Linked DNA regions of Homo sapiens. The protein of the gene in region 3 purifies or fractionates together with the protein of the main gene of each other region. This does not show direct contact. Each region holds a gene or a part of one and is shown on either strand. Other genes may lie near its edges.

The links.
Region 1: the proteins of KIF2C (region 3) and RBM26 purify together in Homo sapiens (affinity purification with mass spectrometry; one large-scale study listed by BioGRID and IntAct). This does not show direct contact.
Region 2: the proteins of KIF2C (region 3) and SRGAP3 purify together in Homo sapiens (affinity purification with mass spectrometry; one large-scale study listed by BioGRID and IntAct). This does not show direct contact.

What each region holds. Positions count from the first base shown.
Region 1 is NC_000013.11:79,368,127-79,371,778, reverse strand, and holds part of RBM26 (RNA-binding protein 26), read left to right. Parts: intron 1-616; coding exon 617-834; intron 835-2,788; coding exon 2,789-3,049; intron 3,050-3,652. UniProt on the Homo sapiens protein: May be involved in the turnover of nuclear polyadenylated (pA+) RNA.
Region 2 is NC_000003.12:8,980,502-8,984,153, forward strand, and holds the end of SRGAP3 (SLIT-ROBO Rho GTPase-activating protein 3), read right to left. Parts: 3' UTR 90-3,652; downstream 1-89. UniProt on the Homo sapiens protein: GTPase-activating protein for RAC1 and perhaps Cdc42, but not for RhoA small GTPase. May attenuate RAC1 signaling in neurons.
Region 3 is NC_000001.11:44,746,279-44,749,930, forward strand, and holds part of KIF2C (kinesin-like protein KIF2C), read left to right. Parts: intron 1-115; exon of another isoform or gene 116-478; coding exon of another isoform or gene 479-481; intron 482-1,105; coding exon 1,106-1,207; intron 1,208-1,373; coding exon 1,374-1,422; intron 1,423-3,652. UniProt on the Homo sapiens protein: In complex with KIF18B, constitutes the major microtubule plus-end depolymerizing activity in mitotic cells. Regulates the turnover of microtubules at the kinetochore and functions in chromosome segregation during mitosis.

The DNA.
Region 1 (3,652 bases), on a different chromosome or scaffold from region 3:
GACTTGGGTTATCTTTTACGCAGAGGCAAGTAATATCTACTCTTTTATTGGTCTAGGAAAATATAACTAGGTCCGTTTCTACCATGAAAATCTAGGTCAGATTTGTAGATCTTGGGAGTGAGTTTAGAACAGTGCTTGACATATATTAGCTGCTTATCTTTTTATTCCTAACTTCAGATTCCAGTAGAATCTTAATGTGTGGGTGTTTTTTTTTTGCCTGCTGTTTCCATTTAGTGTGATTAAATTGTTTTTCTCATTCAGGCTTCAAAAGCACTTAGAATACAATGCATGTGATACATGTCTGTAAGTGAGATTATATGTACGGGATAGTATGTTCTATATGTACTCTAAGTCTTATATACAGATGCCTTTATCTACAGATGCCTAATTGTATAGTTGCCAATGTGTAATAAGACTAAGGGTTAAGGCTTTAAAAAGATTGTTTTTCATTTAAAAGGGATTTAAAGTACTGAATATTAAGCTCAGTTTTTTCAGTTGTCTGATGGTAGGATAGAAAGTTAAGTTACAAGAATTAAATGTAACTTTTGCATTTAATTAGCTTTTTCCTGTGTCACTTAAAAATTATTTGTATTAAAGTGATCACATATTTCTTTAGAAGCCGTGATGAGAGGAAAAAAGATGATCGTTCTCGCAAAAGAGATTATGATCGAAACCCTCCTCGAAGAGATTCATACAGAGACCGGTACAATAGAAGACGAGGGCGGAGTCGCAGTTATAGCAGGAGTCGAAGTCGAAGTTGGAGTAAAGAGAGGCTTCGTGAGAGGGACAGAGATAGAAGCAGGACTAGAAGCAGAAGCAGAACACGAAGCAGGGGTAAATAATATATTTTGGTTATCTTTTTATGAAAAACTCCATGTTTAAATGTTTTTAAAAATTGCTTAACATTTTGTCAGTGTTGTCTTCATTTTTTTCTATTATGATGTATTCTGTGGTCCAAGAGAATGCTTTTTAAAAATTCCTTTAAAAGTTTTATTCCTTGCAAATTAAAATCACAGTTACCACTACACATTCAACAGGATAGCCACGATGATACAGACTGATTCTATTCCATGTTGGTGAGAAAGTAGATAAGCTGAAACTCTTTGGAAAACATTTTGGCAGTATGTAAAAATATTAAAACTACACTTAGCATATGGGTCCGCTATTCTACTTCTTACTGTTTACCTGGAAGAAATGAAAGTGTATGTCCACACAGGTGTTTGTTCACAAAGGTTCATAGCAGACTTATTTGTAAGAGCCAGATCTAGAAACAGCCTAAATGTCCATCAAGAGGTGAATGTATAAACATGTTGTGGTATATCCATACCATAACATGGATAAAAAGAAAAGAACTATTGATACATGCAACAAAATGGATGAATCTCAGTATAATTATGCTGAGTGAAAGAAGCAGGACAATACATATGTATGTTAAAAAATTTTTTTTCTTAATCTTTGTTTTTGTGACAGAGTATTGCTCTGTCGCCCAGGCTGGAGTGCAGTGGTGCTGTTTCAGCTCATTGCAACCTCCGCCTCCTGAGTTCAAGCGATGATCATGCCTCAGCCTCCCAAGTAGCTGGGATTACAGGCAAGTGCCACCATGCTCGGCTAATTTTTGTATTTTTGGTAGAGTCACGTTGGGGGTTTCACCAGGTTGGCCAGACTGGTCTCGAATTCCTGACCTCAGGTGATCCACCCGCCTCAGCCTCCCAAAGTGCTGGGATTATAGGCCTGAGCCACTGTGCCCAGACTAGTTTTTAAAAATGCAAACTAATCTGTGATGACAGAGAGCAAAGCCAGTCGTTGCCTGAAATGGAGTAAAGGAGGGATGATAGATTACAGATTACAAAGGGGCATGAGGATTCTTTTGGAAGTGATGAATATGTACATCATTTATTTGTGGTATTGGTTTCAGAGGTGTTATATCTTGATTAAAACTTATACAGTTTAAATATGTTCAGTTTATTATATATCAGTTATACTTCAAAACTATTTTTAAAAGTTTAAAAAGTTTTATTTCAGATATATATTTTTGCAAGAGCGTGTCATTCCCAACATGTATAATTTTCTTCTAGTACATGTTATTGAAAGTAAGATGTTGTCGTAAAACACCTAAAACACTTTTCAGTAAAGCACCTTTTCTCAAACTTTTTTTGCTACTCTTAATACTATTTATGGCCTTTGTATAAGCCCTGTATTCTGTTACTCTTTTCTTAGAAATTTTCCCCTGCTGTGATCTAGGTATACAAGGCTTCATGGAATGTTACTTCACTTAACTAATCTCTTTAATTTCTTTTCTGTTTCCTGAGGACCATATGTATAGTCTAGTTAATTTCTTTGTGCATGTTTAATATGAACTCTTTCTGGGTCATCCGTTCTTATCTTAATATAACAGCCATTGTAGTAACTTTAAATGGATGACTACAAAATGTTCATCACAGGAAAAATAACCATACTTTATTGCATGTTTTGTTTTGTGGTCTGTAATTATGCATACCAAGATTGTGATGAAGAAAATATAAAATTCCTTTTTTCTATAAACAAAACTCTAAGGAAAAACATTAAATATGGCAGCATTACCTGGTTTTGTAGTTTGGGTTATATTAAAAAGAAATCGCTTACCTTTTAACATTGTATATTAATTGAATATTTTTTAAAAGAAAATGATTATTATGCAAAATTTAAAATTTTTTTTCTATGTTTATAAAAATATCACTATTTCTTAGATCTGGGACTTTTTTTTTTTTAATACAGTGTAGTTTTATATGTCATTTATCTTTCGTTGCAGAAAGGGATCTGGTAAAACCTAAATATGACCTGGATAGAACAGATCCATTAGAAAATAATTATACTCCAGTCTCTTCGGTACCTAGTATTTCATCTGGCCACTACCCTGTACCTACTTTGAGCAGCACTATTACAGTAATTGCTCCTACTCATCATGGAAACAACACTACCGAAAGTTGGTCTGAATTTCATGAAGACCAAGTGGACCATAACTCTTACGTAAGACCACCCATGCCAAAGAAACGGTGTAGAGACTATGATGGTAAGTCTTTCAGCTGTTTGATAAAGTATTTAATTAATATTTCCAGCTGCCTAAATTCTGTGTTTATGTTGTACATAGTTATTCAAAGACTTACCTCTGAAAAGTGGGAAATTAGCCTTAGTCACTTTTTGAATTCCTCAATATGATTGAAACATTTATTAGTTGCCACTAATTTGATTATCAATTTAAAGGTAGTATTTATTTGCAAGTAAGTCTTAATAAATTGTGGGAGTTTACCAAATGAGTAAATATCTACTGAGTTTTTATCAGGGAATCTGCTACTGAAACATTATTGACAAAACTCATTTCTTTAGAATGAGTGATTATTGGACTGTAAATAGAAATGTATCTAGAAATGTAAATGTCACCTTTGTAAGAATTTTATTAAAGAATTAAAGACTTTTGGCTGGGCGCAGCGGCTCACGCCTGTAATCCCAGCACTTTAGGAGGTTGAGGTGGGTGGATCATGAGGTCAGGAGATCTAGACCATCCTGGCTAACATGGTATGCAACCCCGTCTCTACTAAAAATACAACAAATTAGCTGGGCGTGGTGGCTGGCGCCTGTAGTCCCAGCTACTCGGGAGGCTGAGGCAGGAGAAGGC
Region 2 (3,652 bases), on a different chromosome or scaffold from region 3:
GACAGTGTGGACTGGAGGATGGGGACTCCCCCCAGGACCTCTCCACCCCTGATGTGCCACCTCGCCCTTTCAAAAACCACTGGAGCATGTTTGAGAAAAGTTAAGCTGTTTTATTTCACAGGATAGCTCCACGTCAAACCAGCAGGCACCATCAGAATACGCGACAGAGGATCCAATCAGACACTCTATAGGACGGGCGTTTGGTCGTAAGGTAGAGAAACGATATCCAGAAGAGGGCAACATTTATCATCACGTGGGGACAGGCAACCAGCAATTTCCTAGGGTGGTTTTGGTCTGTTTTTCCTGTCACAATTTGGGGAGGAAGGAAACCAAAGGAAACAAAATAGACCAGCCACTCTGAAGCAATCAGAATCAAACCTATTGCCAAACCATGTAAACAGTCACACTGCCGGGAACAAGGGCCTGGGCAGAAACCCTAGCCAGGATCTACTTCCGTCTAAGGAAGGAAAAGTGCACTCTGGTTGTTCTGGTTCAAGGAACAGCTTTGTTATTGGCCGGGGACAACTCACACAGAAAGGAGGTGTCAACAAGGGGCAGCGATGGCCATGTGGCCAGTCCCAGAGGGACAGCAGGACACTGGCAGATCAATCTCAGGGAGGTCAGGAGGGCTTGGACCTGACAGCAAAGTCCCTTCTCTCGGCTCCCCTGGGCAGCTTTGGATATGTGGGGAATGTTCTATGTGGCTGCTCAGAGGAGAGGAGACCCCAGAGAACCGGGGAAGTTGACATGAAATGTCAGCATTAGCTCTGCACAGCAGAAAATCAGCTAGGCAACACCTCGGCTCACCCCTTTCTGCCTTTCCTCCTGGCCGCCACCCCGACTCCCAGCCCAGCAGGGGCTAACCCCATGGTTGTGAGCCAGCCACTCTTCTTTCTGGGTTTCTCAGGAGAGTGAGGCATTTGCACTAGTGTGGAACCATCTGGATGTGTGAAAAGTTAGGAATAGAAAGACTGAGAGGAAGAACCATTACCCGAGTCCTCGTGTTTTTCCATTAGCTGTGGACATGCACTGAATGCCACATCACGACCAGGTCACGAGAAGTCCTCCACATTCGTGCCTCCTGAATGACAGAGAAATATACCCAACAAGGCACTCCAAGGGACTCCAACAGAGAAGAAAGCCCCACATAAAGGCCCCTTCCCACACTGGTTCCTCTTTGTGTACCACAAACCGGTTTTAAATGTTTATAAGGCAGATCTCTGAACTGCTGGTTCCAGCCGATAGCCAAAATATGGCTCAATTTCCCTGTGTCTCTTCCCACTCCGATTTCTTCATTGAATAGAAACCTTTCATCCCTTGGGAATCCATCTCTCTCCTGACCCCTGGCCTGGTGACTTCAGAGAAAAGACTCCAAAGTCTAATTCCCAAGCTCGCAATTCCCTCCGATTGTGCACTCTGTCCGGGGTTCAAAAGGCGCTTCGAGGTGAGAAATCGTTAGCACTGAAACAAGGAAAGGCAAGAATTTTTCATAGAATCCCACAGCTCAGAGCAGCTCTTTAAGAGGAAAAGGGAATAAAAGGGGACGGGGAGAGTGGGGTAGGAAGCACAGCTTGTTCTCAATTTTATCCAAAAAGCTCTTTAGTGGCAGCTGAGCCACAAGGCCCAGGAAACTAGACCAGGAATTAATTGTCTTTGGTCAGTTTTAAATGAACAACTTGCTGGTTCATTCCTAGAATAGACTGAACGTCGGTTACACATAAAGACAAAAGGCTTGACCTCAGGATAAGTCGAAGGTTAAGAAAAGAAATCATTCCATGAAGCAAAGAAAAAAAAATGCCCGTTGTCAACTAACTGATCAGTACGGCTTTCAATAATGGTGATGAACAAGTAGGTAAACACCACTTCCCCTTGTACAATTGGTTATATTGAAGACTACTAACTAGGTTACTACATTTCCCCCACACTCACTGTACAGTTAGGTATTTGTTTTTACATTGATCTATCTACTAGGTGCAAAGATTTGGTGAGTGGCATTGGCTAAAATTTAATTGTAGCCTTTTTAAAAATTACAATTTCACATTTTAACAGTTACTTTCCAGCATTTAAGCAAATACAGCAATATATAGTGGACTAAAACAGGCAGGAGTCAGAAAGAGAAAGCCAATGTTCAGTGAACGTCGATGGGACTGAGTGCTGTGGAGGGTGAGTGAGACATGCATAGTGCCAGATGAGGAAGTGGGAACAGGGGAGGGGGGCGGGAAAGTATTTTTCCACTTGGCCTGCGTCAAGGCTCAGATCTGGGGCTGGATGAGTGGGGAGACGTCTGCCATCTGTGTGTGTACATCCCTAAATGTGAACTCATCAGCCATTTCCCAATGGAAAAAAAAAAAAAAGGTGCTTAAAGAAAACAGCTAAGACTCTGCCCTCAGAAAATTCAGTGAAAGGCAGGTCCATTTTCAGTAAGAAAAAAACAAAATCAGTCAATTCAGAGAAAAATCCACACGGTCTGATTGGTGTTATGTATATCAGGCAACAGATTTTTCTACTCTGATTGTTGCTTTTCATCTGGCAGTTGTGGCAGATTGCTATATTTTGCCTGGGAGGCTACTGGATTTAGGATCTGGGAGTATCTTGAGGGTAGAAATCAGAAGTCTTGTGTCCTGGCTGGACAGTATAGCATCCAGCATGCAAACACATGACTTTAAGAGCCTGACGCAGCCTCTGCTCCTAGCCAGTGTCAAATCTTGGGCAGGTCACAGCACAGCCCAAGGCCTTACTCTCTTAAGCTGTAAAATGGCAATATCTTTCTGTGCTCCAAGCAGATGGCCTTTCATATCCAGGAGCTAAAGAGAAGGGTTCATTCTAGGCCAAACAAGGGAGGTCAAGTTTGACACTGGCCTCTCCCTGAGATCCCTTTTTTTGTTCCTCTCCTGATGCTCCCTTCCACTGTGGGGTGTCAAGTCCAGTCCTTCAGACGAGGTAGTGGCTTTACCCTCCTAACTTATCTAGGTGCCAGTGACTTAACTAGGTCCCTCCCTTTGGGTGTATTTACCTTTTCGCGGGGGACCAGAGGAGAGGGCACCACTTCATCCAATGGGCTGAAATGTTAATGATGGAATCCAGGGCTCTTATTAGGATGGCAGGAAAATTCCACTGCTCACTTCTGAAATGCCATTGGGAGGTTTCAAAAAGAAGGGCTGGAGGGCTCTGATCTAAGACTTACCTTACTAATGATAATCACAAACGCATTGTATTGATTCAGTGTTTTCCAGTGTACACAGCTTGCTCACTGATGTTTGACCTTTATTACCCTATTTTATGGAGCAGAACAGTCAGGCTCAATGAGGTGGAGTGACAAACCCTAAGTCAGAAGGCTCCTAAGTGCTCAGGGCTGGGACTCAGACTCTGGGCCTTTTGACTCCAAACTTCAGTGGCCTCGAGAGAGAGGAAGCGTGGGAACAGTAGGGAAAAGCCCCTGGGTCTCGCAGGAGAGGGTAAGTAACAGCGGCCCACAGGGCACACAGATTTGCCCGTGTGCCATTATCCAGAAACAGCTCATCTCTGGAAGTGATCAGAAGAGGAGGTAAAATGGAATCGAAGGAGAGCGACCCGGAAGGGCTTTACTTGGCCAAGAGGCAAAGGCCTGGCTGTCACACGTGAAGATCATGCACCCATTTCTATCACCACATTT
Region 3 (3,652 bases):
GAACCTGTTGTAAAGCTATCCTGGTGAAGTTTGAGTTGTTCCTGGAGAATTGCAGGACTCTGATGATGTAAACTTAGAATTGTGACCTCATTGCAGGCATCAACAGGAAATAGGTAAGGCATGGGCAGGAAGCCGTAACTGGGGAAGTTTCTGGGCCCAGAAGAAAATGTAGGTAGTCTTAGGGTTAGGTAGCAGCTGTCAGGAACTTGCCCCTGCCCATAAGATCCTAAAGGGCCCCCATTTGACTCTCACCAGACAGTTAGAACTTGTTTCCTCCTCCGTGTCAGCCATCAAGAGGTGCTTGGGGGGCTGTGCCCAGCAGGACCTCACTGCCCAGCAGATCAGCAGGGGAGCCAAGTGGCCTAGATCTGCTGTGGAGTACCCGACTGTTTGCCTGCCTGTCTGCCCTCCTCTTCACCTCATTCTCATCACTGACGTCTACCATTGGCTTGGAAATCAGAAACCCATATCCATCTAGATGGTAAACCATTATTAAGGAGTAACTATTTGTTTTATAGCTATTCATACTTAGTGGAACTTAAAGTTGGTAAAGTTTGAATTTAGGGGTACCCCTGTCTATAGAAATTTAATTTTTTCTATGTTGTTTTTTTGTTTGTTTGTTTGTTTTTTGTTTTTTGAGACAGAGTCTTGCTCTGTTGCCCAGGCTGGAGGGCAGTGGCTCAATCTCAGCTCAATGCAACCTCCGCCTCCTGGATTCCAGCAATTCTCCCGCCTCAGCCTCGGGGGGGCCAGGCACAGTGGCTCACACCTGTAATCCCAGCACTTTAGGAGGCCGAGGTGGGGAGATCACCTGAGGCCAGGAGTTTGAGACCATCCTGGCCAACATGGTGAAACCCTGTCTCTACTGGAAATACAAAAATTAGCTGGGCGTGGTGGCGCATGCCTGTAGTCCCAGCTACTCAGGAGGCTGAGGCAGGAGAATTGCTTGGACCCAGGAGGCAGAGGTTGCATTGAACCAAGATCGCACCACTGCCCTCCAGCCTGGGCGACAGAGCGATACTCTGTCTCAAAAAAAAAAAAAAAGAAAAAATGTATTTGGATTGAACAATGTTGTTTCATTGAAACTTTTACTTGCTCCTTGCAGATTGATTTTGATGATGTGGCTGCAATAAACCCAGAACTCTTACAGCTTCTTCCCTTACATCCGAAGGACAATCTGCCCTTGCAGGAAAATGTAACAATCCAGGTAGGTGCCTGTCATCTGGCTGCAGCCAGTGCGCCAGAGAATTCACTTTGCTTATTGACTCTTTGCTGATTGATTGTCTGGCATTTTAGCATAGTACATGGGCCCAGGATGGGCCCTTGAGAATTGATAAGAGCCATATATTGTGACAATTTGATTTGTTTTTCAGAAACAAAAACGGAGATCCGTCAACTCCAAAATTCCTGCTCCAAAAGAAAGTAAGTGGATTTCTACTAGCTTACTATCATGGAATTTGTGTCAGGAATTATGTTTCTAGGACTCAGAGTTGTGGAAGCTCCTCTTTTGCAGGTGGTTTCTATGTGGGTTGAGTCCTGCCTGTGTTCCAAGCATCTTTCTCTATGAGAAAGAATCCAATCTACAGCTATCAGGCCAACCTTTAAGAGACCTGGTGCATTTAGGAAATTTGCTGCCTGGCCTAGAAACCTTTTCTGTAGAATCCAGAGCCTGATGCTGAGGAGAGTAGGAATCAGCCATTGGTAGGCCTTTTTTCTTCCCTCGGGGCTCAGCCCCCTCAGTGGAACAGTATGCCTTGGAAAGAGATTTTGAAAATGGGAGACACTAGGCCTGTGGGTTGTTTAGAAGTACAGTTGGTGGCGCTATAGAGAGGGATGGCTGGGGCTGGAGAGAATAACAGCATTGCCTCGTGGTCTAGGAGGTTGGGAGTCTCTCTGCAGAAGTAGTCTGTGAAAACCTACTTTGACAACATGATAGACTGTGACTCTAGGGGGTAAGCTTCCCAAAAGATCCAGCTTAAAGCCAGTTGTACCTTGAAGGCTGGTGACCTGCACAGCTCTCCAGGTCTAGGGGTCATCATTGCCCTGAAATGATTCAGCTACCTCAGGGACTCACAGAATACTTGGCTGGAGCTTCAGGTTCTGGGGGCCCTGAGTGGAAGGTGGTGCCATTGCAAGCTTGGGCCTGACTATTGTGGTGCTGGCCCTTTCTTGCTGGGTGTACCGTAAGGTCATGCAGGAGAGTTGGGACTCGCAGCAGTCCCATTCCGTGTTCATGTCCTCAAAGGATATTGCCCCAGCTTTGTTTTGTTTTGTTTTTCAAAGGCAGGGTCTCACTTGGTTGTCCATGCTGGAATACCATGATATGATCGTAGCTCACTGTAGCCTTGAACTCTTGGGCTCAGGCAATCCTCCCACCTCAGCCTCCCATGTAGCTGGGACTACAGGTGTGCCCCATCACACCTGGCTAATTTTTTTTTTTTTTTTTTTTGTAGAGACAAGGTCTCACTATGTTGCCTGGGCTGGTCTCAAACTCCTGGCCTCAAGTGATCCTCCTGCTTCAGCCTCCTAAAGTGCTAGGATTGCAGGCGCGAGCCACCATGCCCAGCCAATAGCTTTTTTTCTTTAGGATGGAGTCTCGCTTTGTTGCCTAAGCTGGTCTTGAACTCCTAGCTTCAAGCAGTCCTCCTGCCTCAGCCTCCCAAAGTGCTGGGACTACAGGCACACACCACCATGCCCAGCTACACAGCTCATTTTAATGGAAAAAAAAATCTTTAAGGCCCTGAGCAGTAGCTCATGCCTGTAATCCCAGCACTTTGAGGGGCCAAGGTGGGCAGATCACCTGAGGTCAGGAGTTCCAAGCCAGCCTGGTCAACATGGTGAAACCCTGTCTCTATTCAAAATACAAAAAACTGGCCGGGTGTGGTGGCTCACACCTGTAATCCCAGCATTTTAGGAGGCCAAGGCGGGTGGATCACCTGAGGTCAGGAGTTCAAGACTAGCCTGGCCAACATGGTGAAACCCCTGTCTCTACTAAAAATACAAAAATTAGCCAGGCGTGGTGGTGGGTGCCTGTAATCCCAGCTACTCAGGAAGCTGAGGCAGGAGAATCGTTTGAGCCCGGGGGGGCAGAGGTTGCAGTGAGCCGAGATCATGCCACTGTACTCCAGCCTGGGTGACAGAGTGAGACTCGGTCTCAAAAAAACAAAGAAAAAAAATTACAGATCATTTGGGGCTAGATGTGATGGCTCACACCTGTAAGCCCAGTGCTTTGGGATGTTGAGGCAGGAAGATGGCTTGAACCTAGGAGTTTGAGACCAGCCTGGGCAATATAGCAAGACTCAGTCTTATTATAAAAATAAAAAATAAAATAAAATCATTAGGGAAATAGGACGATTGTAAAAATTCAAAACATGGATTATATATAGCCATCAGCCTGAACTTATAATACTCAGAAACTGGGTAGAAGTTGGTTTTGGCAGAGGTTGCAGTGAGCCAAGATCATGCCACTGCACTCCAGCCTGGGTGGCAGTGTGAGACTCTGTCTCTCAAAAAAGATGGGCTGGGCACGGTGGTTCACACCTGTAATCCCAGCACTTTGGGAGGCCGAGGCGGGTGGATCACAAGGTCAAGAGATTGAGACCATGCTGGCCAACATGGTGAAACCCCGTCTGTACTAAAAAAAAAATACAAA